Homo sapiens: one gene and its partners. The main gene of each other region encodes a partner of the protein of the gene in region 3 in a complex. Each region holds a gene or a part of one and is shown on either strand. Other genes may lie near its edges.

Region 1 (3,500 bases), on a different chromosome or scaffold from region 3:
ACTAATGAATTAGCACATTAAAAAACATAAATGATAAAATTAAAACATTATTTAAAATGTAAATGTATAACATTACAAAATATGAAAGGCTATAGGCACTAATATGGAGATCTTTAAAGTTATAAAGACATTTAATGTTCAAGTTTAGGCCAAATAAATGTGAAAATCTGAGAAAAATAGGTGATTTTTTAAAGGAAAATACAAACCACCAAACTTGAAGCACAGTTAGAAAACTTGTATAAATCAGTAACTAAAAAGAAATTGAAAAGATTGTCAAAGATAGACTACCTTCATCCCACCTATTCCCATATTCCTGTATGAGTTTAAATTTGAATTCCTCTTTAGGGACAAGTTAAATCTCATTAATGAGTTTTGTAGTATACTTAAGATTCTACATTAAGTCAGAGGGGGTGAAGTTTGGATTTGATTTTTATTATTAAACAGCCAGTTTTTTAAGTTCAGGGGTACATGTGCAGGATGTGCAGGTTTTGTTACATAAGTAAATGTGTGTCATAGGGGTTTGTTGTATAGATTATTTCATCACCCAGGTATTAAGCCTAGTGTCCCTTAGTTATTTTTCCTGATCCTTTCCCTCCTGCCACCCTTCATCCTTCCATATACCCTTCACCCTTCCATATACCCCAGTGTGTGTTCCCCTCTATGTGTCCGTGTGCTGTCATCATTTAGTTCCCACTTATTAGTGAGAACATGCAGTATTTGGTTTTCTGTTCCTACATTAGTTTGCTAAAGATAATGGTCTCCAGCTCCATCCATGTCCCTGCAAAGGACATGATCTCCTTTTTTATGGCTGTATAGTATTTCATGGTGTATACTGGAAAATACATTTTCTTTATCCAGTCTACCATTGATGGGCATTTAGGTTGATTCCATGTCTTTGCTATTGTGAATAGCACTGCAATGAACATAAGTGTGGATGTGTCTTTATAATAGAACAATTTATATTCCTTTGGGTATATACCCAGTAATGGGATTGCTGGGTCAAATGGTAATTCTGTCTTTAGGTCTTTGAGGAATTGTCACACTGCCTTCCTCAATGGTGAACTGATTTATACTCCAACCAAGAGTTTAAAAGCTTTCCTTTGCCTCCACAACCTTGCCAGTATCTGTTATTTTTTGACTTTTGAATAATAGCCATTCTGACTGATATGAGATGGTATCTCATTATGGTTTTGATTTGCATTTCTCTAATCAGTGAAGCTGACCTTTTTTTCACATGATTGTTGGCCACAGGTATGTCTTGTTTTGAGAAGTGTCTTTGCCTACTTTTAAGTGGGGTTTGAACAGGCATTTATTAAACATCCAGCATAAGTAAAATTGCATTAAATGCTGATGGGGGGGAGATATAAATAATAAGAGACAAACCTATCTTCAAAAAGACTAGTAATGTGAAATAAACATTTGCATGAAACAGTAGGATTGAAGAATAAGAACAAAAGAGCACTACGTGTGAGAAGCTCACTTGAAAGTCCCAAATTGAAATAAACACTGTTTTGATGAGAAGGGGCCTCCTTTTTAATATTCTTTCCATGTGGAATCATCAGCAGTAAAGAGATCTATAGATCTGGAAGCAGAAGAGCTGGCTGGATGGAGGGGACTTTGCTGACATCCCCTCTGAAAAATAAGGTCAGAAGAGTGGGCCCGGGGGAGGGTGATTTTCATGATCCATGGCATTTCATTACCCTTGTAAACAGATACTGGAGCTGTGCTCATAGCCAAACTGGAAAACTAGATTATTTAGCAGGTTTTCTTTCCATAGCTGAGCCATAATCTTCCCTTAGGAGAGATACTGTATCTTATCCTTGATGGTACAGTCAGTGCCTAGAACTGAAAAACTACTCAATAAATGGATTTGTTGTTTTGTGATAAGGATGATGTCTTCTTACTTTGCCCAAGCCTGGAAAGTAGGCCAAATATATAATAGAGTTTCTTTCATCTTCCCAGCTCGAGAGTCAGGATGTCTCAGATTTAACAACAGTTGAAAGGGAAGACTCATCATTACTTAATCCTGCAGCCAAAAAACTGAAAATAGATACCAAAGAAAAGAAAGAGAAAAAGCAGAAAGTAGATGAAGATGAGATTCAGAAGATGCAGTAAGTCACTTTCTTATCATTCCCCATTTCGAGGCTCTCACTTGACCACACAAATTTAATAAATTTTTCTTGGTGTTTAAATTTTCTTTTATAAACTCAAAAGAAAATAAAACGATTAATACATTATGGCTGGGCATGGTGGCTCACGCCTGTAATCCCAACACTTTAGAAGGCCAAGGTGGGAGGATTTCTTGAGGCCTAAGTTTGAGACCAGCCTGGGCAACATAGTGAAACCCTTTCTCTAATGTTATGTTATGTTATGTTTTTTTTTTTATTTTTTATTTTTTTGAGATAGAGTCTCACTGTGTCGCCCAGGCTGGAGTGCAATGGTGTGATCTCGGCTCACTGCAGCCTCCACATCCTGAGTTCAAACGATTCTCATGCCTCAGCCTCCCGAGTAGCTGGGACTACAGGCATGCACCGCCATGCCCAGCTAATTTTTGTATTTTTAGTAGAGACAGGGTTTCACTATGTTGGCCAGGCTGGTCTTGAACTCATGACCTCACGTGATCTGCCCGCCTCGGCCTCCCAAAGTGCTAGGATTACAGGCATGAGCCACTGTGCCCGGCCTCTATTTAAAATTTTTTTTTTTTGAGACAGAGTTTCGCTCTCGTTGCTCAGGCTGGAGTGCGGTGGTGCAATCTCTGCTCACTGCAACCTCCGCCTTCTGGTTTCGAGCGATTCTCCTGCCTCAGCCTCCCAGGTAGCTGGGACTACAGGCTCCTGCCACCATGCCTGGCTAATTTTTGTATTTTTAGTAGATACAGGTTTTTGCCATGTTGGCCAGGCGGGTCTCGAACTCCTGACTTCGTGATCCGCCCGCCTCAGCCTCCCAAAATGCTGGGATTACAGGTGTGAGCCACTGTGCCTGGCCAAAAACAATTTTTTCAAATAATTATGTTACAGCATAGAAAATATAAATAGATAAAAAGAAGGCCGAGATCGGTGGCTCACACCTGTAATCCCAGCACTTTGGGAGGCTGAGGCGGGTGGATCACTTGAGGTCAGGAGTTTGAGACCAGCCTGGCCAACATGGTGAAACCCCGTCTCTACTAAAATTACAAAAAATTAGCCAGGTGTCGTGGTGGGTGCCTGTAGTCCCAGCTACTCGGGAGGCTGAGGTAGGAGAATTACTTGAACCCAGGAGGCAGAGGTTGCAGTGAGCCAAGACTGCGCCACTGCACTCCAGCCTGGGCGATAGAGCCAGATGCTGTCTCAAAAAAAATAAATAGATAAGAAGAAAAAATAATTACCTTACCACAGAGATATATCCTGCTTATAAGTTTCAAGATAGTTTCTATACATATATATCTATAAATTTTTTTTTCCACAAATGTCAAATACTGTTTTGTAGCCTATTTTTCACATTAGATATGGTGAATGTTTTCC
Region 2 (4,312 bases), on a different chromosome or scaffold from region 3:
CTATACTTACTTTTTTGTTTGTTTGTTTGAGACAGAGTCTCGCTCTGTCACCCAGGCTGGAGTGCAGTGGCGCGATCTCAGCTCACTGCAAGCTCCGCCTCCCAGGTTTACGCCATTATCCGGCCTCAGTCTCCGGAGTAGCTGGGACTACAGGCACCCACCACCAGGCCAGGCTAATTTTTTGTATTTTTAGTAGAGACGGGGTTTCACAGTGTTAGCCAGGGTGGTCTCGATCTCCTGACCTCGTGATCCACCCACCTCAGCCTCCCAAAGTGCTGGGATTACAGGCGTGAGCCTCTGTGCCTGGCCACTTTTTTTTTTTTTTTTTTGAGACAGAATCTTACTGTGTTGCCCAGGCTGGAGTGCAGTGGCGCAATCTCGGTTCACTGTAACCTCTGCCTCCCCGGTTCAAGCATTTCTCCTGCCTCAGCCTCCTGAGTAGCTGGGACTACAGGCCCGTGCCACCTCTCCCAGCTAATTTTTTGAATTTTAGTGGAGACTGAGTTGCACCATGTTGCCTAGGCTGGTCTTGAACTCCTGAGCTCAGGCAATCCGCTCGCCTCAGCCTCCCAAAGTGCTGGGATTACAGGTGTGAGCCACCTCACTGGCCCTATACTTACTATTTGTAATGATCAATTGGATAAATGTATATTGGGGGTTATGAGATTGATGAAGGAGACAGTGGACTAAAGCCATAAGCTGGGAAAATGCATATGGATGTGATGTTGATAGGGAATTTAAAAGAGATAAAGGATATTTCAGTGTTTTATAAGGTACAGCTGTTAAATATCTGAGTAGAAAGTTTCCTTAGGAAGCAGAAGAGTCGTGGAGTTGTAGAGGAGGTAAATTAGGGCCGCATATGTAGATTTGGGTTTAATCTAGGTGAAGGTGATTCTTGAGAGAGGGAATAGGGAACGTATAGGGGAATAAAAGCAGAGTCTTTAGGACGAATTCTTGAGTGATGCCAATGGTTAAGGGGCAGTGAAAAGAGTAATAAACTGCAGATGACAGATAGAAAAAGTGTGTCATCTCTCATTTGAGAGATGAAAGACCAGTCTTAAGGGAAACTGACAGAGGGAGAAGATTCCCAAAGTGCTGGGATTACAGGTGCGAGCCACTGTGCCTGGCCCAGTATGAAAATTCTAAAAAAGATATGGTCAGGAAAGGAGCAAATGTTTCAAGCAGCTCTTGGAAACGCTTTCATATGTTGTATGATTTTTTCTTTTCTTTCTTTCTTTTTTTTTTTTGAGACAGTTTCACTGTGTCGCCCAGGCTGGAGTGCAGTGGCGCAATCTCGGCTTACTGCAACCTTCACCTCCCGGTTCAAGTGCTTCTTGTGCCTCAGCCTCCCAAGTAGCTGGGATTACAGGCACATGCCACCACTCCTGGCTAGTTTTTGTATTTTTGACAGAGATGGGGTTTTGTCATGTTGGCCAGGCTGGTCTCTGAACTCCTGACCTCAGGTGATCTGCCCGCCTCAGCCTCCCAGAGTGCTGGCGTGAGCCACCATGCCCAGCCATCATATCTTGTGTGAGATATTATATATGTTATAGCAATTGACTTGCACCGTGATGTCATCTCTTTCTGAAGGCTAAAGCTATGTTTCAGATAGATATGTAAAATATTTTGAGGCATGGTCTTGCTCTGTCACACGATTACTGCTCATCAAAGCCTTGACCTCCTGGGCTCAAACTGTCTCCCGACCTCAGCCTCCTGAGTAGCTGGTACTACAGGCGTGTGCCACCACGCCTAGCTAATTTTTGTATTTTTTGTAGAGATGGGGTTTCTCCATGTTGTTTAGGCTGGTCTTGAAATTCTGGGCTCAAGTGATCTGCCCATCTTGGCCTCCCAAAGTGCTGGGATTACAGGCGTGAGCCATCATGCCTGGCCCTCACCTTGCTTTTTTCACTTGTGTGTTCTTAAGGGATATGCATAGTGTTTCATGTGGTGCTTTAAATTATTGAGTGGCCCTGTAATCCCAGTACTTTGGGAGGCTGAGGCAGGTGGATCACAAGGTCAGGAGTTCGAGACCAGCCCGACCGACATGGAGAAACCCCGTCTCTACTAAAAATACAAAAATTAGCTGGGCGTGGTGGCACATTCCTGTAATCCCAGCTACTCAGGAGGCTGAGGCAGGAGAACTCGGGAGGTGGAGGTTGCAGTCAGCTGAGATTGCACCGCTGCACTCCAGCCTGGGCGACAGAGCAAGACTCTGTCTCAAAAAAAAAAAAAAAATTGAGTGGCAAGGAAGCTTAAGGCGGTTGTATAATATTTTGGATATTGAGGAGATCACCTTCTTGGTTTTATTAGATTATGATGAAGATGACTATGATGCTGATTGTGAAGACATTGATTGCAAGTTGATGCCTCCTCCACCTCCACCCCCGGGACCAATGAAGAAGGATAAGGACCAGGATTCTATTACTGGTGGTAAGTAGAGATTGTCTACTTTTGTCTGAGGAGCAAGTTTTCATTCCTAAGTCCAGGCTTGTGGCACACACATAAGGGACAAACTTAAGCTTATATGAAGGGACAAAACTTCTAGAAATAATTCATACAATCGCAAATTTTAGTATTAAAGGGAAGTTTTACTTTTAAAACATTTGGCAACAGTATTTTAACATGTGCTCAAGAAATAGTAGTTTAGTCAGTGGTTCTCAAATCTGGCTACCCATCAGAATCACTTAGAATCTTTAAAAAAAAAAAACAAATACCTGACTTTCACCCCTTGAGCCTGATTCAGAAGATCTTGGGTAGAGTCCAGGAATTTAATTAAATTAATTAAAATTTTTTTGAGAAAGAGTCTTGCTGTGTTGTGCAGGTTGGAGTGCAGTAGCACGATCTTGGCTCACTGCAACCTCCGCCTCCCGGGTTCAAGTGATTCTCATGCCTCAGCCTCCAGAGTAGGGGCTGGAACTCCTGACCTCAAGTGATCCGCTCGCCTTGGTCTTCCAAAGTGCTGGGATTACAGGCGTGAGCCACTGCTCCCTGCCGAACCCGGGAATCTTAAAGAGTTTCTTAAGTAATTTATGATACAACTGATCTGTATACTGGTATTTGGAAACTACTTGTTTAGATGGCTTTATTTTAAATGAAGTGGTTAAATTAGGAAGGTGCCCTGGAATGTTGATAAATCAGATAGTGTCAACTACCAGATATTCAGAGATTTCAAAGGCTAGTAGAGTCTTCAGTGTTTATCTTACCTATTCCTATAACAGTAACTGTCCTAGGCTTGAAAACTGGGGAAGAGCAGTGTTTTTGACCTCCTGTATTTTGAGGCTTGTATTAACCTAAATTCTTCCTGTTGGAGTTTTAAGCCATTTCTTTTAACAGTCTGCTAAATGTCAGCTGTTAACTTTGTTTTATAGATCTTATTTATGCCAAAGAACCTTAATGTTGTCCCGTGGGCTTAAAAAAATTCTCCAGCTCATGAGTCTCTGAACTAGGACTACCTGAGTGGTATAAAGTATTACATAGTTTTGCTATTGGTCACAACATTGGTTACAATATTGGTTACTTATCAGAAAGTAGGGCCAGGTGTGGTGGCTCACACCTGTAATCCGAGCACTTTGGGAGGTGGAGGCAGATGATTTGAGGTCAGGAGTTCAAGACCAGACTGGCCAAGATGGTGAAACCCCGTCTCTACTAAAAATGCAAAAATTTAGCCAGCTGTCGTGGCGCATGACTGTAATCCCAGCTACTCAGGAGGTTGAGGCAGGAGAATCACTTGAACCCGAGAGAGAGAGGTTTCAGTGAGCTAAGATCTCACCACTGCACTCCAGCCTGTGCGACAGAGCAAGACTCTGTCTCAAAAAAAAAAAAACAACAAAAAATCGGAAAGTAGTAAATGTAGTAATAGTGTTTGTTTTCTCATCACAACCCTAGGGTACCAGGTACGTGGTGAGTTGGGGGACGATGGGAGATAACGAGTTAGAATGAGTTTTCTGGGTTGCATACTAGTATTATGATTTGGGTGCTTGGGCCTATATCTCCTGGCATTGAGCCATGTGTATAGCCTAAAGTGGGTGTTTGCGGAATTCGAGGAAATATGTTCACAGTTACATGCCAAAGGGGTTTCTCTTCCTTGTTGCAGTGTCTGAAAATGGAGAAGGCATCATCTTGCCCTCCATCATTGCCCCTTCCTCTTTGGCCTCAGAGAAAGTGGACTTCAGTAGTTCCTCTGACTCAGAATCTGAGATGGGACCTCAGGAAGCAACACAGGCAGAATCTGAAGATGGAAAGCTGACCCTTCCATTGGCTGGGATTATGCAGCATGATGCCACCAAGCTGTTGCCAAGTGTCACAGAACTTT
Region 3 (6,100 bases):
AGAGAAACAAATGTATTAGCTAAAATGGAGTTTCGTTATTTAAACTCCTTTTTTTTTTTTTTCTGAGACAGAGTCTCGCTCTGTCGCCCAGCTGGAGTGCAGTGGCGCGATCTCAGCTCACTGCAATGTCCGCCTCCCAGGTTCATGCCATTCTTCTGCCTCAGCTTCCCCAGCAGCTGGGACTACAGGCGCATACCGCCATGCCCGGCTAATTTTTTGTATTTTTAGTAGAGATGGGGTTTCACCGTGTTAGCCAGGATGGTCTCGATCTCCTGACCTTGTGATCCGCCTGCCTCAGCCTCCCAAAGTGCTGGGATTACAGGCATGAGCCACCGCATGTGGCCCCTAAACTCTTATACAATTTAAAGACAGCATTCAGGAAGAGAGAATTGGATACTGCACAGAATAGATAGAAGTCAATGTTTAATGGCATTTGTTTCACCGATCAGAATTCTGCTAGCCTTTGAGGAGGAGCAAATTGTAGTTCATTTCTGTTGAACTTGGTTTAAGTACTTACGTAAACTTATTTATCAATTTTTTTTTTTTTTTGAGACAGAGTTTTGTGCTGTCACCTAGGGTGGAGTGCAGAGGTGAGATCTCAGCTCACTGCAACCTCTGCCTCCCGGGTTCAAACGATTCTTGTGCCTCAGCCTCGGCCTCCTGAATAGCTGGGATTACAGGCACCCTCCACCATGCCTGGCTAATTTTTGTATTTTTAGTAGAGACAGGATTTTGCCGTGTTGCCCAGGCTGGTCTTGAACTCCTGACCTCAAGTGATCTGGCCGCCTCAGCCTCCCAAAGTGCTGGGATTACAGGCGTGAGCCACCGTGCCCAGCCATATAAACCTTATTTTATTTTATTATTTTAATTTAATTTCATTTTTTGAGATGGAGTCTTGCTCTGACACCTAGGCTGGAGTGCGGTGGTGCAATTTTGGCTCACTGCAACCTCCGCCTCCCAGTTCAAGTGATTCTCCTGCCTCAGCCTCCTGAGTAGCTGGGATTATAGGCATGAGCCACCACGCCCAGCTAATTTTTGTATTTTCAGTAGAGAAGGGGTTTCACCAGGTTGACCAGGCTGGACTTGAATTCCTGAGCTCAGGCAATCCACCCGCCTCAGCCTCCTAAAGTGCTGTGATAACAGGCATGAACCCCCGCGCCCGGCCAAACTTAGTATTTTATTTTATTATTATTTTTTTTTTGAGATGGAGTCTCACTCTGTCGCCCAGGCTGGAGTGCAGTGGCACGATTTTGGCTCACTGCAACCTCTGCCTCCTGGGTTCAAGTGATTCTCTTGCGTCAGCCTCACAAGTAGATGGGATTACAGGTGCCCACCACCCTGCTTGGCTAATTTTGGTATTTTTAGTAGAGATGGGGTTTCACCATGTTGGCCAGGCTGGTCTTGAACTCCTAACCTCAGGTGATCCACCTGTCTCAGCCTCCCAAATTGTTGGGATTACAGGCATGAGCCAGTGCGCTTGGCCAATATTTTAAATCAAGAATTTTAAAAGTCTTTATATATTCCTTAAAATAGAGGATTGAGGAGATATTTAGTATAGTGTGAAAATGATTAACATTTGCTTCCTATCTCTAAATATCCTAAAATAGTATTGTTTAGTCTAACCCTTTTATTGGCAGGGTCTCACTGCAGTGGATGTCACTGATGATTCTAGTCTGATTGCTGGAGGTTTTGCAGATTCAACTGTCAGAGTGTGGTCGGTAACACCCAAAAAGCTTCGTAGTGTCAAACAAGCATCAGGTAACTGAGATGACCTTTTGGAATGTGAACTTGCCATTAGTCTATACCAATCTTGATTCCATGGAAAATACACAGGAGATTGTGTTCTTTACAGAAATTCACTTGATTTTACTTTAACTCAAGATTCTAACATTCCCAACAGTGAAAAAAGCTTTGGAGTGACTGGGGTGCTAGACTGGTTTAATTTCTTTAGGTCTCAGTTTTCTCATCTGTAGAATGAGTGAGTATTAAGCTAAAAAACTTAAAGTTAAAAATCTAACATTTTATGATTGCTTGTAAATCTTAAAAAATCTTTAAATAAGGGATGGTACTTCCTGTTTTAGTCATAAAAATGGCTAAAAAGAACAAATAAGGTCAGGATTTTATTTGAAAGTTTTTTACTTTTTGTTTTTTTGAGACAGAGTCTCGCCCTGTCACCCAGGCTAGAGTGCAATGGCGCAGTCTTGGCTCACTACAGCCTCTACCTCCCAGGTTCAAGGGATTTTCTTGTGTCAGCTCCCCAGCTCCCCAGTAGCTGGGATTACAGGTGCCCACCACCATGCCCAGGTAATTTTTGTATTTTTAGTAGAGATAGGGTTTCGCCATGTTGGCCAGGCTGGTCTCGAACTCCTGACCTCAAGTGATCCGCCTGTCTGGCCTCCCAAAGTGCTGGAATTATAGGTGGCTCACTGCAACCTCCACCTCCCTGGTTCAAGCGATTTTCCTGCCTCCACACCCGGCCTGAAATAAAGTTTTTTACTAACTATATTATTTAAATAAAACAATATATTTTAAATTATTTCAATATTTCCATAGGTTTTTTTTTTTTAATTTTAAATTTTTTTTAGATGGGGTCTCACTCTGTTGCCCAGGCTAGAATGCAGTGGTGTGATCACGGCTCACTGCAGCCTCTAATCCCTGGGCTGAAGTGATCCTCCCACTTCAGCCTCCTGAGTAGCTGAGACTACAGGTGTGTGCAACCACACTGGCTAATTTTTTATTTTTTGTAGAGACAGGGTTTCTCCATGTTGTCCAGGCTGGTCTCGAACTCCTCTGGGCTCAAGCAATCTGCCCGCCTTGGCCTACCAAAATTCTGAGACTACAGGTGTGAGCCACCATGCCTGGCCCATAGTTTTCATTTTGTGAAACACTGTGGCATAGTGGGCAAAACTGAGTTTCAGTTCTGGTTCCCACACTGAGTAGCTGTGTGCACTCTAGCAAATTATCTGTTCTGAACGTCATTTTCTTCTCTTACACGCTGAGATGATACTGCCTAATTTAGAGGGATTAGCAAAGTGCGGTTGGTATATAGGAGGAAATTTTCAAATGTTAATTCCTCTCCTGCACTGTGATATGATTACTTTAAAAGTTTTGATGAATGTACTTATAAAATATCAATATTTCTGGACCATTTTAGATCTTAGTCTTATAGACAAAGAATCAGATGATGTCTTAGAAAGAATCATGGATGAGAAAACAGCAAGTGAGTTGAAGATTTTGTATGGTCACAGTGGGCCTGTCTACGGAGCCAGCTTCAGTCCGGATAGGTAAAATACAAACAATAAAAATTAAATACTGCTATGTTATATTGAAATTATATAAAAGTTAACTACTGGAAACATTATGCAAATGCTGGGAAAATTCTGATAAAAATCTCATGGTTGTCTGACGTTCATCATCTTTTAGAATCTTGCCATTTGCTAATTCATCTTTGAATCCTGGTGTTTGTACATGGTAGCAATTTAATGTATACTCACTTTTTTTTTTTTTTTTTTGAGACAGAGTTTCGCTCTTGTTGCCCAGGTTGGAGTGCAATGGCGTGATCTTGGCTTACCGCAACCTCCGCCTCCTGGGTTCAAGCGATTCTCCTGGCTCAGCCTCCTGAGTAGCTGGGATTACAGGCATGCGCCACCACACCTGGCTAATTTTATTTTTTTATTAGAGATGGGGTTTCTCCATGTTGGTCAGGCTGGTCTTGAACTCTCAACCTCAGGTGATCTGCCCACCTCAGCCTCCCAAAGTGCTGGGATTACAGGCGTGAGCCACTGTGCCTGGCCTGTATACTCAAATTTATAGAATCAAAATGCACAGTTTCAGGGCTTACTGGTTTTAAAAATTAGCTTTAGTATTTCCCTTTTTTTTTTTTAATTATTTTTATTTGTTACCCAATGGTAAATAACCAACCAAAGCTTTAGTTTTATAGAACTCCATTAGGGGTTGAATTGCTTCATTGGGTCCCTGCATTGTGTCTTCTGGCTGCTTCATCAAATTTAAGACAAATTCCTGACATTAATGGCATATTAGCTAGTAATTGAGGATTAATCTTTCTATAATCAAAAGTACTAAGAGTAAATGAAAAAGGAAATTCAAAATTGGTTTGCTTCCCTTTAGGTGTATGATTACAATGTCATCCTATGTGTATAGGTATTTGCCTATTTTTCATGATCTCTAACACTGTAAAAATGGGTGGAGGGTGTTTTGTATTCATAATACCATCAGTATATTACTTGGATAGATAATAGCTTTCAGGCCGGGCACAGTGGCTCACGCCTATAATCCCAGCACTTTGGGAGTCCAAGACAGGCGCATCACCTGAGATCAGGAGTTTGAGACCAGCCTGGCCAACATGGGAAATCCTGTCTCCACTAAAAAGTACAAAAATTAGCAGGGTGTGGTGGCGCCCACCTGTAATCCTGGCTACTTGGGAGGCCGAGGCAGGAAAGTCACTTGAACATGGGAGGCAGAGGTTGCAATGAGCCGAGATTGCACCACTGCACTCCAGCCTGGGTGATAAGAGCAAAACTCCATCTCAAAAAAAGAAGAAAAGAAAAAAAGATAATAGCTTTCCATCCATCAAGGTTTCATCATTACGAAACTTTGAGAATTAGGTTTTTTGTTGCTTGATAAGGTTTTGCCAGATGATACATTTTTGAGGGAAACGTCTGATTTCAGTGAAAATTGTAATAACCTTCTGACTATCAATCTTTTGTGTTTATGCTTGAAAAAGGTAGAGAATTATTAGCATGTCTGTAGTTTTTTTTTCTTTTTCTTCAAAAGACATTTCCTTTTTAATTCTTACATAGCTTACACAGCATGGGAAAATAGCATCTTTATTTTAGGGTCAAAAATTGTTGAGTTTTAAGTGACATATCACATTTCTTAAACTTTCTCAATTGACCTTATTTGACTATACTTTGTTAATTACCCCTGCTATTTTTTTCTTGTAAAGAACTCTGATTTTCCCTAAGTTTTTGTATCATATTACCTCATTCAGTAGGTGCTCGGTATATGTAGAGTGTCAGGGTTAACATTAGTTTGGTTAGTTCTTTCAATTGATACCTACTGTGAATTGCGTGTATGAATTAAAAGTGAGATGCAGCATGTTAGGTATATTTAATATAGTCAAATATATATAAAATATTAAATGTATTCAAATGTATATAAAACTGGGCAGGTGACCAAAGGTTACTCTGGGAGTCAAATATATCACCTTCTCTTCTCTCAGGAACTATCTGCTTTCCTCTTCAGAGGACGGAACTGTTAGATTGTGGAGCCTTCAAACATTTACTTGTTTGGTGGGATATAAAGGACACAACTATCCAGTATGGGACACACAATTTTCTCCATATGGATATTATTTTGTGTCAGGGGGCCATGACCGAGTAGCTCGGTAAGAACACTGTGATCTTATGACTGGGTCTATTCAATGAACAGAATGGTTTCTTGTTGGGAATTACACAGCCAGCCAAATTCATTTACACTTCCATTATTGAGGTTCAACTTTCTGAGAAGCTTTTGCATTTATAACTTATTTGAAATTGGGGCCGGGCGCAGTGGCTTATGCCTGTAATCCCAGCACTTTGGGAGGCCGAGGTGGATGGATCACCTGAGGTCAAGAGTTTGAGACCAGCCTGGCCAACATGGTGGAACCCCGTCTCTACTAAAAATACAAAAATTAGCCGGGCGTGGTGGTAGGCACCTGTAATCCCAGCTATTCAGGAGGCTGAGGCAGGAGAATCATTTGAACCTGAGAGGCGGAGGTTGCAGTGAGCCGAGATCGCACCATTGCACTCCAGCCTAGGGGACAAGAGCGAGACTTCATCTCAAAAAAAAAAAAAAAAAAAAAAAAAAGAAAAGAAATTGGGGCAGGAGTATTATTATATCTGCAATTACATCTATATGAATCCTGGTTTTTAAAAAATAGTTAATTAACAATCCTCCCTCCCAACCCCATCAGATACTTAACCTTGTCTTCCATACCACTGTGAGCACCTTTATGTTTCTCTGTCATCTGCTTAGAAGTTGAGGATAAGGTAGTTCAGGTTAGAAACTATTTGGCCAGGTGCAGTGGCTCACGCCTGTA
Region 4 (6,100 bases), on a different chromosome or scaffold from region 3:
GAGGTGAGCAGCCTAACCCAAAAGAGGAACCATATTTACTTTGTGTTTTAATGTGTTATGCTTATTTTTTATCGGAATTTATCATACATTTATTAGGTTGGTGCAAAAATAGGTTGGTGCAAAAGTAAAAACCTGGACTAATATATAGCAAAAGATTGGGAATAATATATAACTTGTGCACCTAATAGAAAAGTGCACAGATCATAAATGTACAGTTTTCACAAATGAGCTTGTATTACCAGCCTGGAGATTACAAAATGAAACATTACTATATCCTAGAAGCCCCTCTCATGCCCCTGTTTTTCTCCAACTTTCCCCAAAGGTAGCCTTACTCCACAATTACTTTTGCTAAGCATCTGTTGGAGGGGCTTTATACACATCCTCCCACTGGAGGCCAGGACAGTGGTTAACGCTGTGTTACAGATAAGAAGATTGAGGCTCAGAAAAGGGAACTGTTCACTTGAGGTCTCACACACCAGGATTCAAACCCTAGCTTCAGGGGCCCTGTCTTTATACCTGCTGGTTGACCTTAGACACACCCTCACACTCTTTCACCTCATTGAGACTCAGTTTTCTATTCTGGCTCAAACACAAGAGTTTATCTCATGGAACAGTCTGGGTACATGTTGCAGGTTATCTAAGGTAGGGGAAGGGGCAGGTCTCTATCTCATATCATCAGACAGGGACCCCAGCTGACGGTGGCCTTGCAGTCTGCACAAGGTCACTCTGGGCGTAATTGTCACTCCAGTCCCACAGAATAAGAGCAAGGAGGCCGGGCGCGGTGGCTCACGCCTGTAATCCCAGCACTTTGGGAGGCTGAGGCGGGCGGATCACAAGGTCAGGAGATCGAGACCATCCTGGCTAACATGATGAAACCCCGTCTCTACTAAAAATACAAAAAAATTAGCCGGGCATAGTGGCAGGCGCCTGTAGTCCCAACTACTTGGGAGGCTGAGGCAGGAGAATGGCATGAACCCAGGAGGCGGAGCTTGCAGTAAGCCGAAATTGTGCCACTGCACTCCACAGCCTGGGTGACAAAGTGAGACTCCATCTCAAAAAAAAAAAACAAAACAAAACAAGGAGGAGTGTGTGAAGGAAACTTTTTGGCCCATGCCTAGCTATGGCTCTTATCTCTTCTGATCACTTTCCCCTGGAGAGAACTTGTCACATGACCATACCCGCCTGCAAGAGAGCCTGGGAAGTACAACTGGACAGGCATTGCCTAGCTGCCGTGGAGGAAAGAAGAGTATGGCATTCGGACAGCTAGCATCTCCGCCACAGCAGGCCTAGCACACTGCCTGGTGCGTTGCAGACGCTTCACAAACCTTAGCTGTTCATTACCATCATTGAGTGTTAATCATTTCTCTTCTGTGTTCCTTTTTCTTCACATCAGTACGAAAATAAAAGGGATTTCTAGAATGATCAAAGCAATTTGGGATTGGTATGGGAAGGCTTCCCACGGTAGGTGGGATGGGAAAGATAAAAGGATATTTCTGGTGTTTGAAGACTGTCAGTGTAGGTCAGAAAGGAGCAGGAAAGTGGAACAGCTATTTTTCCTTCCACTCATTTTTGTGGTCTTCTAGGAAAATATTATTTCCCCTATGGAGGATTCTCCTATTCCTGACATGTCTGGGAAAGAATCAGGGGCTGACGGGGCAAGCACCTCCCCTCGCAATCAGAACAAGCCCTTCAGGTGAGTGGTGTCCTATCCACAACCCACAGTCTGGCCCCCGCTTCTGTTGGCTTCTCTCCATCTCAACCTGGGGAAGTCCTCATCAGTAAGAGGCTGGGGGCAGTTAGGTGAAGCCTAATAGCAGTCTCAAGTGTGAGTGATGACCCAGCGTGTCTGCATGCACAGACTGAGTGCAGGGTTGTTCAGCACAGAACTGTTCATACCATAAATAACCCAAATGTCCTGCTGAAGGGGAATGGTTGGCTAAATTGGCATAACTCCATATGATGAAATAACTTGGGGCTATTAATCATATAGCTGCAAGTATAGAGAAATATAGTTAAATGACATGAAAAGATGTAAATTATAGAGTGACAAGTGGAGAAAATATTAGTTGTAGCCCAGTATGGATGGTATAATACTATTTTTACTTAAAATATATTTCTTTTTTTCTTTTTCTTTTTTTTTTTTTGAGATGGAGTCTCGCTCTTGTCGTTTAGGTTGGAGCGCAATGGCGCAATCTTGGCTCACTGCAACCTCCGCCTCCCAGGTTCAAGCGATTCTCCTGCCTCAGCCACCAAGTAGCTGTGATTACAGGCGCCTGCCACCATGTATGGCTCATTTTTGTATTTTTAGTAGAGACGGGGTTTCACCATCTTGGCCGGGCTGGTCTTGAACTCCTGACCTCAGGTGATCCTCCCACCTCGGCCTTCCAAAGTGCTGGGATTACAGGTGTGAGCCACCATGCCTGGCTTACTTACAATATATTTAAATATGTGCACATAAGGGAAAAAACCTGGACTAATATGTAGCAAAAGATTAGGAATAATATATAACAAAATCTGGAATATATATAATAATATATAACAAAATAATAGTAATTCTCTCTGGGTTGTTGGCATTATGGGTTTTTCCATATTTTTTGAATAGTAGATACATACGTTGCTTGTTTTAAAAACCAGACCAGATGTGTCTGTCCCTCCCTTTGTATCTGGATAGATACAGAGGGGGTGCCCAAAGGGAAAGGCAGGTTTTCACTGACCTTGGGAAGCCCTGGGAACCTCCAAGGTGGGCCCTTCTCCAAGCTGGCTCTTGAGTCTGACGGGCCTGCCTCCCGCTGCAGTGTGCCGCATACTAAGTCCCTGGAGAGCCGCATCAAGGAGGAGCTAATTGCCCAGGGCCTTTTGGAGTCTGAGGACCGCCCCGCAGAGGACTCCGAGGATGAGGTCCTTGCTGAGCTTCGCAAACGGCAGGCTGAGCTGAAGGCACTTAGTGCCCACAACCGCACCAAGAAGCACGACCTGCTGAGGTGAGCGTTAGCAGGATGCACAGTCCCGGGGGTGGCCTTGGAGGCTGTGGCCACGGCTAGTCACCTTTCAGGGGTTTTACAACAGGCTTTCCAATCCTGGCTGGCCTCTAAATCACCTGGAGAGCCTCGAAAAAAACAGCAGTGGCCAGTCCACCGGGTATGTCCCAAACAAATTCTGATTCCACAGAGTGGGGCTCAGGCATCTGTGACTGACCGATTGATTTGATTTGTTTTTGTTTTGTTTTTTTTTGAGAGGGAGTCTCGCACTGTCACCCAGGCTGGAGTGCAGTGGCATGATCTCGGCTCACTGCAAGCTCCGCCTCCCAGGTTCATGCCATTCTCCTGCCTCAGCCTCCTGAGTAGCTGATACTACAGGCACCCACCACCACGCCCAGCTAATTTTTTTGTATTTTTAGTAGAGACGGGGTTTCACCGTGTTAGCCAGGATGGTCTCGATCTCCTGACCTCGTGATCCACCCGCCTCGGCCTCCCAAAGTGCCGGGATTACAGGCGTGAGCCACTGCGCCTGGCCTAGTTTGGTTTTTTAATTATGGTAAAGGCATAATATAAAATGTATCTCCATGGGAGGCTGAGGCAGGAGAATCAGTTGAACCTGGGAGGCGGAGGTTGCAGTGAGCTGAGACTGCACCATTGCATTCCAGCCTGGGCAACAAGAGTGAAACTGCATCTCAAAAAAAAAAAGAAAAAAAATTTACGCTTCTTAACCATTTTTAAGTGTACAGTTTAGTAGTGTTACCCATATTCACATTGTTGTGTGATTTATTTTTTGTCTTTTCATGCTTCTTTTCTTTTTATCCCCAAAGTTTTGTTATTAAAAATTTGATACACACAGAAAATCTGAAAGAATCATACAATAAACATCAGTATATTCTCCACCTAGACTAATTAACTGTTAACATTTTGTTGGAGATCTGTGATTTTTATTTGCTCATCACAAGAAATTGACCAGTGTTTTAGGACATGTTCTTTTGGGAATCCATCACAGTGCCTGCCATTCATTTGATGTCAACTCCCATCCATCTTGTTCTGCATTGATCACGAGGGTATAGGTGACATCTTGAGGAAGACTGTGGAATAGCTACCCTTTAGGTAAAGAGATAGGGAAGCAACCCGAACAAGTCTCTTTGCTTCTCACAGACAAGTGCTGTGTCTTAACTTCATAGAGCCCTGACAGGACAGGGCACATTCATTCATTTGGCCTTTTTTTTTTTTTTTTGAGACGGTGTCTCACTCTGTTGCCCAGGCTGGAGTGCAGTGCCATGATCTCGGCTCACTGCAACCTCCGCCTCCCGGGTTCAGGCAGTTCTCCTGCCTCAGCCTCCTGAGTAGTTGGGATTACAGGCATGCACTACCATGCCAGGCTAATCATTTGGCCATTCTTACTGTCTCTTAGATATTGTGCTGGGGGCCAGCAAGAGAGGCAGAGCAAGGGACTTGCAGATTACTAGCAGATGATCAGTAAAGATAAGTGCCATTAAAAGGAGAGGTAGTTGCTGACAAGCTGCCAGGGTATTTAAGGATAAGAGTGACTAATGTATGCTGAGGGCCTACTGTGTGTCAGGGGCTTTATGTACACTCTCTCAAGTGTCTTGACAACAACCCAGGAGGGAGGAGCTATTTTCGTTGTTTACCAGATGAGGAAATAAAGGCCCAGTGAAGCGAAATGCTCTGCTGAAGGTCACACAGTCAATAAACAGCAAGCTGAGACTTGAACCTGTGGTTGAATCAAAGCCTCTTTCTATAATAGTTTGTTTTCTCTGAAAGGTGAGAAGAAGAAAACACAGATGGAAGAGGCACTGAGGGAAGCAGAGGGAGAGAGAGGAAGAGAGAGAAAAGCAGGCATGTGCAGTTACAGAAGTAGTGGGCCCTAGCTGGGCCTGGTGGCTCATGCCTGTAATCCCAGCACTTTGGGAGACTGAGGTGGGAGGCTTGTTTGAGCTCAGGAGTTCGAAACTAGCCTGGGCAATGTAGTCAGACCCCCTTCTCTACTAAAAATTTTTAAAAATCAGCTAGGCATGGTGGCACATGCCTATAGTCCTACTCAGGAGGCTGATGTGGGAGGATTGCTTGATCCTGGGAGGTAGAGGCTGCAGTGAGCTTGATCAGGCCACTGTACTCCAGCCTGGGTGACAGAGTGAGACCTGTCTCAAAAAAAAAAAAAAAAAAAAAAAAAGAAGTAATGGGCAATGAAGAAATGGCTTGCAGCTCTCAGGAAACCAGAGCACAGCCCTTACCCTGCTGCAGAGCAGCTGCAAGGCCTTAAGCAGCCCCTGACCTGAGCATCTCCTTCCCCTTCTGGAAAACTGGCAGGCTGGACTCAATCACTAAGTGACCTTCCAGCTCCACCATCGATGAAATGTATAAATCAGACCCTGTTCAGAGAGATTGATCTGGTGTCTCACCCACCTCCTGTCAGCCTCAGGCTGCCTAGACCTTAGGGGGCTCTGGAATGCAGATGCCGACGTAAGCAGGCCTTCTGCTGGCACCGGAACACCTGAAACAACAGTGTTTAAAAACAAGAGTTTGGCCCCAGCCTGCTCCAGATCTCCCCCTCACTAACTGTGGGATCCTGGGATCATCTTTGAGCCTCATTTTCCTCACGGGTAACATATGAATAATAGTACATATTTTGCAGGGTTGTTAGGATTAACTGAAAGACAGAGAGAGAGAGTGGGTGTGCCTGTGTGTGTGTGTTTGTGTGTGTGTATGTATATATATATATATTTTAGAGACAGGGTCTTACTCTGTTGCCGAGGTTGGTCTCAACTCCTGGCTTCAAGTGATCTTCCTGCCTCCATCTCCCAAAGCGCTGGGATTACAGGCATGAGCTACTTTGCCCAGCCTACTGTGTATATTTTTAAGACCTTTTTTTTTTTGAAGACACAGTCACGCTCTGTTGCCCAGACTGGAGTGTAGTGGCATGATCATAGTTCACTGTAACCTTGAACTCCTGGCCTCAAGCAATCCTCAGCTCCCTTGGAGTTGGGACTACAGGTGTGCACTACCACACCCAGCTAATTTTTTAAATTTTTTGTAGAGACAGTCTCACTATGTTGCTCAGACTGGTCTCGAACTCCTGGGCTCAAGTGATCCTTCTG
Region 5 (6,100 bases), on a different chromosome or scaffold from region 3:
AGGCTGAGGGGAGCCGGAGTTGGGCTGGGAGCCATTGGCTTTTGGAGTCCCTGGAGCTGGAGGGGGACTGTCCCCAGCCTCCTGCTTCCCCCCACAAAGGGCACTGCCGCTGAGTGGGGACGGGGACGATGCCGGGGGAGGAACTGGAGAAGGATGGGAGGTGGGGCCTCCTTTGCCCTCCCCTGTTGGGGGAAGTGAGACCACGATGTACTTCTGGACACTCCCAGGACCAGAGGGAGCAGTGCTGGGGGGTGCGGTGGTGGCGGTGGAGACCAACTTGACGATGGGCTGCACGCTGGGGACGGTGGTGGTGACGGGCGAAGTGGTGGTGGAACCTGAGCCGGGGGCCGAGGTGCTGAGGGACAGGACCTGGATAGAAAGGAAAGGCAGGCCGCTTGCCCTGTGCCCTCCCTGCCCCCCAGAGGCCTGGCGAGGACGCTTCACTCGCTCCCTGCCTGAACAAGTTGTTCCTGTAGTTCACCCTGTAGACAGCTATGGCTGGAGACCTTGTTCATGCAGGGCAGCTACAGCCCTGCAGGACCCTGGTGGGCGCCTCTTCCAGCTCTTGACTTGGGGCCCAGAGGGGACTGTGCTCTACTCCTGGGCCTCCCCAGGGTGCTCTGAGGTAACCCAGGCCCTCCAGATGCTCCCTGTCCCACAGCTCTGCATACCTGCTGGGTGGATGGGGCGCTGGAGGACGATGACATTACAATAAACTTGGTTGGAGGAGGGGAAGGCTGTGGTGGGGCAGCCGCTCGTGCAGACACCAGTGTCTGGACAGGAAGTGCGATGGAGCCAGGAACCTTCAGCAAGCCAGGGGTGCGAGGGCCAGGCTGTGGGGCCTGCGAGAGGGTCAGCGTGGGCCGGGGCTGCGGGGAGAAGAGGAAAGGGGGAAGTGGCACCATCTACTAAGAAGAGGAGTCTGAAGGGAGAGGCCTGGGCTCCCCTCGCTCTTCCTCAGTGGCTCTCACTAGGGCTGGGGCATCCTCACTCAGGGCCTGGTTGCCCTGAGACTACTGACTGAGGGCACATGTGGCTGTGTGCAAGTGCCTGTCCCACACAGGGGTTCTCCTCTGCTTCCTCCTATTCCTCCTCCCCACCCGGCCACGGACCTGCGTGATGGTCAGAGTGGTCCTGTTGACCTGCTGAGCCTGCAGAGCAGCCTGGGCCCGAGCCTTGACCACCTGGGAGCAGAGGAGGGGCCCAAGGGACCCGAATTCTGCCCGATAGGCGTCCTGATTGTCAGGCGGTGGGCGCAGCTTTGCCAGAACAGGAGCACAGTGTTTCTGCAGAACAGAAAAAAAGCCAGGTAGAGGGAGGGCTGGGGAAAAAAGCCAGGTAGAGGGAGGGCTGGTGACACTCTTGAGAAGAACCTTGGGGATGGGGTAAAAAAGGACATTCCTTATCATCTCAGTGCCCCTGTTGAAGGCCAAATTATGCTGAACTATTAGTGTGTGTACAGAACACTGTGGGCTTTCTCATAAGAAAAGATGGGCACGGGGCCAGGTGCAGCATCTTAGGCCTGTATCCCAGCACTTGGGAGGCTGAGGTGGGTGGATCACTTGAGGTCAAGAGCCTGGCCAAAATGGAGAAACCTCATCTCCACTAAAAATACAAAAACTAGCCAGGCATGGTGGCACGCACCTGTAGTCCCAGCTACTGGGGAGGTTGAGGTACTAGAATGCTTGAACCCAGGTGGTGGAGGCTGCAGTGAGCAGAGGTTGCATCAGTGCACTCCCGCTTGGGTGACAGAGTGAGACTGTCTCAGAAAAAAAAAAAAAAGAATGGCTGGGTGTGGTGGTTCATGCCTGTAATCCCAGCACTTTGGGAGGCTGAGGCTGGCAGATCACCTGAGGTCAGGAGCTCAAGACCAGCCTGGCCAATATGGTGAAACCCCGTCTCTACTAAAAATACAAAAAATTAGCCAGGCATGGTGGCGCGTGCCTGTGGTCCCAGCTACTTGGGAGGCTGAGGCATGAGAATTGCTTGAACCTGAGAGGCAGAGGTTGCAGTGAGCCTGAGATCGCACCACTGCACTCCAGCCTGGGTTACAGAGTGAGACTCCATCTCAAAAAAAAAAAAAGAAAAGAAAAAGAAAACATGGGCACTAATGTGTGAATGAACTTGCTAAATACTGTGGCAGGATGGTTAATCAAGAGCGCATTTGCCTTGTACAGAGAAGACCACAGAGTAACAGGAGCATTGGGGAAGGATGGTCCAAATGCCACAGGCTGAGCGTGTTAAACCCTTCTTTTTTGGGGGGCGGTGGTCTCCCTCTGTAACCCAGGCTGGAGTGCAGTGGCACGATCATAGCTCTCTGTAGCCTTGAACTCCTGGGTTCAAGCAATCCTCCCACCTCGGCCTCCCTAGTAGCTGGGACCACAGACACGTCACCACTCCCGGCTTTTTGGTTTTTTTTTTTGCAGGTGGGATCTCGCTACGTTGTCCAGGCTGGCCTCATACTCCTAGGCTCCCAGAGTGCTGGGATTACAGGCAGAAGCCATCATGCCCAGCCCCCTTATTTCTTACTCAGTCTAATCTCAGTCTTTCCATCTGTAAAATAGTATCAGACTCTGCAATGTCCTCTGAAAACATGAGGCAAAGATGGGAGTAAGTGAATAAAATATGCCATATGCTTGCTAAACACTGCCTGTGTCTCAGTGGGCAGGTGTGGGGACAGGGGCTTCAGTCACCAGCAGGAGGCTCTGCACATGGTCTGCTCCAATCCGGTCAATGTTGCTCAGCACAGGGCCGTCCAGCACACTGCGGATCCGCTCCCCTTCCTGCTGCAGCCGGGGCAGAATCAGAGTCTTGATAACCTGTTAGAAGGGAAAAGGACAAGCAAAAGCCGGAGGGTCACCAGGGTCTCCCAGATGGGGGTACAGTGCCCTCTATAACCTCATGACTGTGTCCCCTCCCCCATTTCTTCCTCCCAGAGGCCTAACATCGTGTCCCAGCTCAGCCAAGCCTGCGATGGAGCCATAACGAGTCGTCCAGGGCGTCTTCTCGTCCACCCAGCTCTGTAAGGGGAAGGAAATAAACTAAGATGAAGGGGTCTGAAAGGATGATTGACAGGGACCTAAGTCTTTCATAGACACTTTCCTTGTAAATCATTAAGACATTACAATGAGGCCAGACGTGGTGGCTCACACCTGTAATCCCAGCACTTTGGGAGGCCGAGGCAGGCAGATCACCTGAGGTCAGGAGTTCCAGACCACCCTAGTCAACATGGTGAAACTCTGTCTCTACTAAAAATACAAAAATTAGCCAGTTGTGGCCAGGTGCAGTGGCTCATACCCGTAATCCCAGCACTTTGGGAGGCCAAGGCAGGCAGATCACCTGAGGTCGGGAGTTCTAGAGCAGCCTGACCAACATGGAGAAACCCCGTCTCTACTAAAAACACAAAATTAGCTGGGTGTGGCGGCACATGCCTGTAATCCCAGCTACTCGGGAGGCTGAGGCAGGAGAATCATTGGAACCCAGGAGGCGGAGGTTGTGGTAAGCCAAGATTGCACCATTGCACTCCAGCCTGGGCAAGAAGAGCGAAACTCCATCTCAAAAAAACAAAAACAAAAAAATTAGCCAGTTGTGGTGGCAGGTGCCTGTAATCCCAAGTACTCAAGAGTCTGAGGGAGAAGAATCGCTTGAACCCAGGAGGCAGAGGGTGCGGTCAGCAGAGATTGCACCACTGCACTCCAGCCTGGGCAAGAGCGAGACTCCATCTCAAAAAAAAAAAAAAAAGGTATTACAGACAAGCCTCAAGACCCTTAGACCCCCACAAGTTCCAGTCCCTCTTCCCTCTGCCCCCTTGTTTCCAGTGTGACTTCCCCCAACCAGAGGTGGCCAGTGATGAAGCAAATGACGCTCAAGTTTTCCTGGCTCACCTTGGTGAAGGTCTTGGTGATCCGGGACTGGATGTTGTTAGTGGTTGTGCTAAAATGCTTGCAGATCTGGGCCACCAGGCGGGCAGCAAAGTCTCGGAGTGCCCAGTGATTGTCCACATCTGGTCGCAGGCACAACTGTCTGCTCACGATGCAGGTCATCACAGCTGGAATCAGCTCATGGACCTAAGGGAGAAAGGGCGGGACAGCTGATTCTGGTTTTGTTTGTCTGCTTGAGATAAAGTCTTGCTCTGTCACCCAGGCTGGTGTGCAGGGACACAATCATGGCTAACTGCAGCATCAATCTCCCGGGCTCAAGCAATTCTCCCATCTCAGCCTCCCAGGTAGCTGGGGCCACAGGTGTGCACCACCATGCCTGGCTAATTTTGTTTTGGTTAATTTTTTTTGTAGAGATAGCAGTCTCACTACTGTCCTCAGGCTGTCCTCAAACTCCTGAGCTCAAGCAATCCTCCCACTTCGGCCTCCCAAAGTTGCTGGGATTTCAGGTGTGAGCCACTGCTGACCACTGACTTCCTGTTGGTGGCAGCAGGGTCCCTAGTCCCTGGAAGGGAGGATGGGCAGGATCACTCACGTATTTTTCTAGATAGAGCGTGGGGTTGTCCATCAGCGCTTTCACCATACGCATCAGGTAGATGAGTAGGGCCAGGTTGTTCTGAACCACGTTCACACGGACCTGTGGGAGGGAGAAGTGCTGGGCATGGGGCAGGGAGACCCTCACAGGAGCTTCCACTGCCGTCCCTGCACTGTGGAACCTCATGCTCTCACCCCCTCCGAGATAAAGGTACTGAACCGTGGCAGCATCTGATACAGTCCAGGGTCCGTGGCAATGCTTTGCAGGGCTTCCTGTGGGAGGAGGGAAGCCAGTCAGGTGGGGGTGGGATGTGGGGAGCAATTCATAGGGCCCCCAGGAGGAGGCGTCTCAGGGCCAGGGCAAGCTGGTGGGGCCCTCACCGCCCTCTTGGCCTCGCAGGAGCCCACGCAGGCCTCGGTGATCTCCTTGTAGTAGAGCTGCTGCTCCACAGACAACTCGTGGATGCTCCGGGGCTTCAGTCGCAAGGGGGCCCCCTCCAGCAAGGGCGGCGCCTTCTTCTCTTTCCCTGTGTGATTGGAAAGGTGGGTCTGACAAAGAAAGCTCCAGAAGAAACCTCAGTAACAGAAGAACCTTAACCCTCCACTTCCCCTGAGACCCAGGAGACCTGGCTTCTTCTTAGGCTCCCCCATCCTTTCTGGGGCTCTGGCCCTGACCTCAGCCACTTCACCAATGGCCACATGGAGGCCTGGCATGGTGGCTCACACCTGTAATCCCAGCACTTTGGGAGGCCAAGGCGGGCGGATCACATGAGGCTGAGTTTGAAACCAGCCTGGCCAACATAGCAAAACCCTGTCTCTACTAAAAAAAATTACAAAAATTAGCCGGGCGTGGTGGTGGGCACCTGTAAGCCCAGCTACTCAGGAGGCTGAGGCAGGAGAATCGCTTGAACCCTGGAGGTGGAGGTTGCAGTGAGCTGAGATCGTACCACTACACTCCAGCCTGGGTGACAGAGTGAGACTCTGTCTCAAAAACAAAAAAAAAGGAAACAAAACAAACGGCCATGTGGCTTTGGGCAAGAGTCCAGAGAGGCCTAGCCTAGGAGGACTGACCTTTGCCGTCGGCTGTGGTGGCCCCTTGACCTTTGCCCTTCAGGGGTCCGTCTTCCTCCTGGCCTGGCTTGGCTGACTTCAGGGGTTCTGTGGCTTCAGCCTTCTGTTGCTCTTTGGGAGCTGGTGGGAAAGCAGGCACAGCGGGAGGGGTGATGAGCATAGTAGAAAAGTAAAAGGTGGGAGGAGGCCGGATGCGGTGGCTCATGCCTGTAATCCCAGCACTTTGGGAGGCCAAGGCGGGTGGATCACCTCAGGTCAGAAGTTCGAGACCAGCCTGGCCAACATGGTGAAACCTCGTGTCTACTAAAATTACAAAAAATTAGCCGGGCGTGGTGGTGTGTGCTTGTAGTCCCAGCTACTCAGGAGGCTGAGACACAAGAATCGCGTGAACCCAGGAGGCACAGGTTTGCAGTGAGCCAAGATTGAGCCACTGCACTCCAGCACTCCTGCACTCCAGCACAGGCAACAGAGTGAGACTCTGTCTCAAAAAAAAAAGGTGGAAGGAAGGGGAAAGGGACCCAGAGACCCAGAGGGTGGGGCATGGAGGTTACCTGGGG

What was found.
Region 1: TAF5 (region 3) and TAF11 share a complex: the UniProt entries of both Homo sapiens proteins name them as parts of the TFIID basal transcription factor complex.
Region 2: TAF5 (region 3) and TAF1 share a complex: the UniProt entries of both Homo sapiens proteins name them as parts of the TFIID basal transcription factor complex.
Region 4: TAF5 (region 3) and TADA3 share a complex: the UniProt entries of both Homo sapiens proteins name them as parts of the TFTC-HAT complex.
Region 5: TAF5 (region 3) and TAF6 share a complex: the UniProt entries of both Homo sapiens proteins name them as parts of the TFIID basal transcription factor complex.

What each region holds. Positions count from the first base shown.
Region 1 is NC_000006.12:34,881,543-34,885,042, reverse strand, and holds part of TAF11 (transcription initiation factor TFIID subunit 11), read left to right. Parts: exon of another isoform or gene 1-1,605; coding exon of another isoform or gene 1,606-1,644; intron 1,645-1,962; coding exon 1,963-2,111; intron 2,112-3,500. UniProt on the Homo sapiens protein: The TFIID basal transcription factor complex plays a major role in the initiation of RNA polymerase II (Pol II)-dependent transcription.
Region 2 is NC_000023.11:71,372,857-71,377,168, forward strand, and holds part of TAF1 (transcription initiation factor TFIID subunit 1), read left to right. Parts: intron 1-2,310; coding exon 2,311-2,430; intron 2,431-4,093; coding exon 4,094-4,312. UniProt on the Homo sapiens protein: The TFIID basal transcription factor complex plays a major role in the initiation of RNA polymerase II (Pol II)-dependent transcription.
Region 3 is NC_000010.11:103,380,084-103,386,183, forward strand, and holds part of TAF5 (transcription initiation factor TFIID subunit 5), read left to right. Parts: intron 1-1,637; coding exon 1,638-1,758; intron 1,759-3,154; coding exon 3,155-3,284; intron 3,285-5,242; coding exon 5,243-5,407; intron 5,408-6,100. UniProt on the Homo sapiens protein: The TFIID basal transcription factor complex plays a major role in the initiation of RNA polymerase II (Pol II)-dependent transcription.
Region 4 is NC_000003.12:9,780,909-9,787,008, reverse strand, and holds part of TADA3 (transcriptional adapter 3), read left to right. Parts: coding exon 1-3; intron 4-1,583; coding exon 1,584-1,693; intron 1,694-2,795; coding exon 2,796-2,981; coding exon of another isoform or gene 2,982-2,985; exon of another isoform or gene 2,986-3,883; intron 3,884-3,900; exon of another isoform or gene 3,901-3,997; coding exon of another isoform or gene 3,998-4,028; exon of another isoform or gene 4,029-5,326; coding exon of another isoform or gene 5,327-5,496; intron 5,497-6,100. UniProt on the Homo sapiens protein: Functions as a component of the PCAF complex. The PCAF complex is capable of efficiently acetylating histones in a nucleosomal context. The PCAF complex could be considered as the human version of the yeast SAGA complex.
Region 5 is NC_000007.14:100,107,255-100,113,354, forward strand, and holds part of TAF6 (transcription initiation factor TFIID subunit 6), read right to left. Parts: coding exon 6,095-6,100; intron 5,664-6,094; coding exon 5,544-5,663; intron 5,000-5,543; coding exon 4,854-4,999; intron 4,746-4,853; coding exon 4,668-4,745; intron 4,576-4,667; coding exon 4,474-4,575; intron 4,068-4,473; coding exon 3,885-4,067; intron 3,021-3,884; coding exon 2,946-3,020; intron 2,820-2,945; coding exon 2,694-2,819; intron 1,786-2,693; exon of another isoform or gene 1,287-1,785; coding exon 1,113-1,286; exon of another isoform or gene 870-1,112; coding exon 672-869; exon of another isoform or gene 370-671; coding exon 1-369. UniProt on the Homo sapiens protein: The TFIID basal transcription factor complex plays a major role in the initiation of RNA polymerase II (Pol II)-dependent transcription.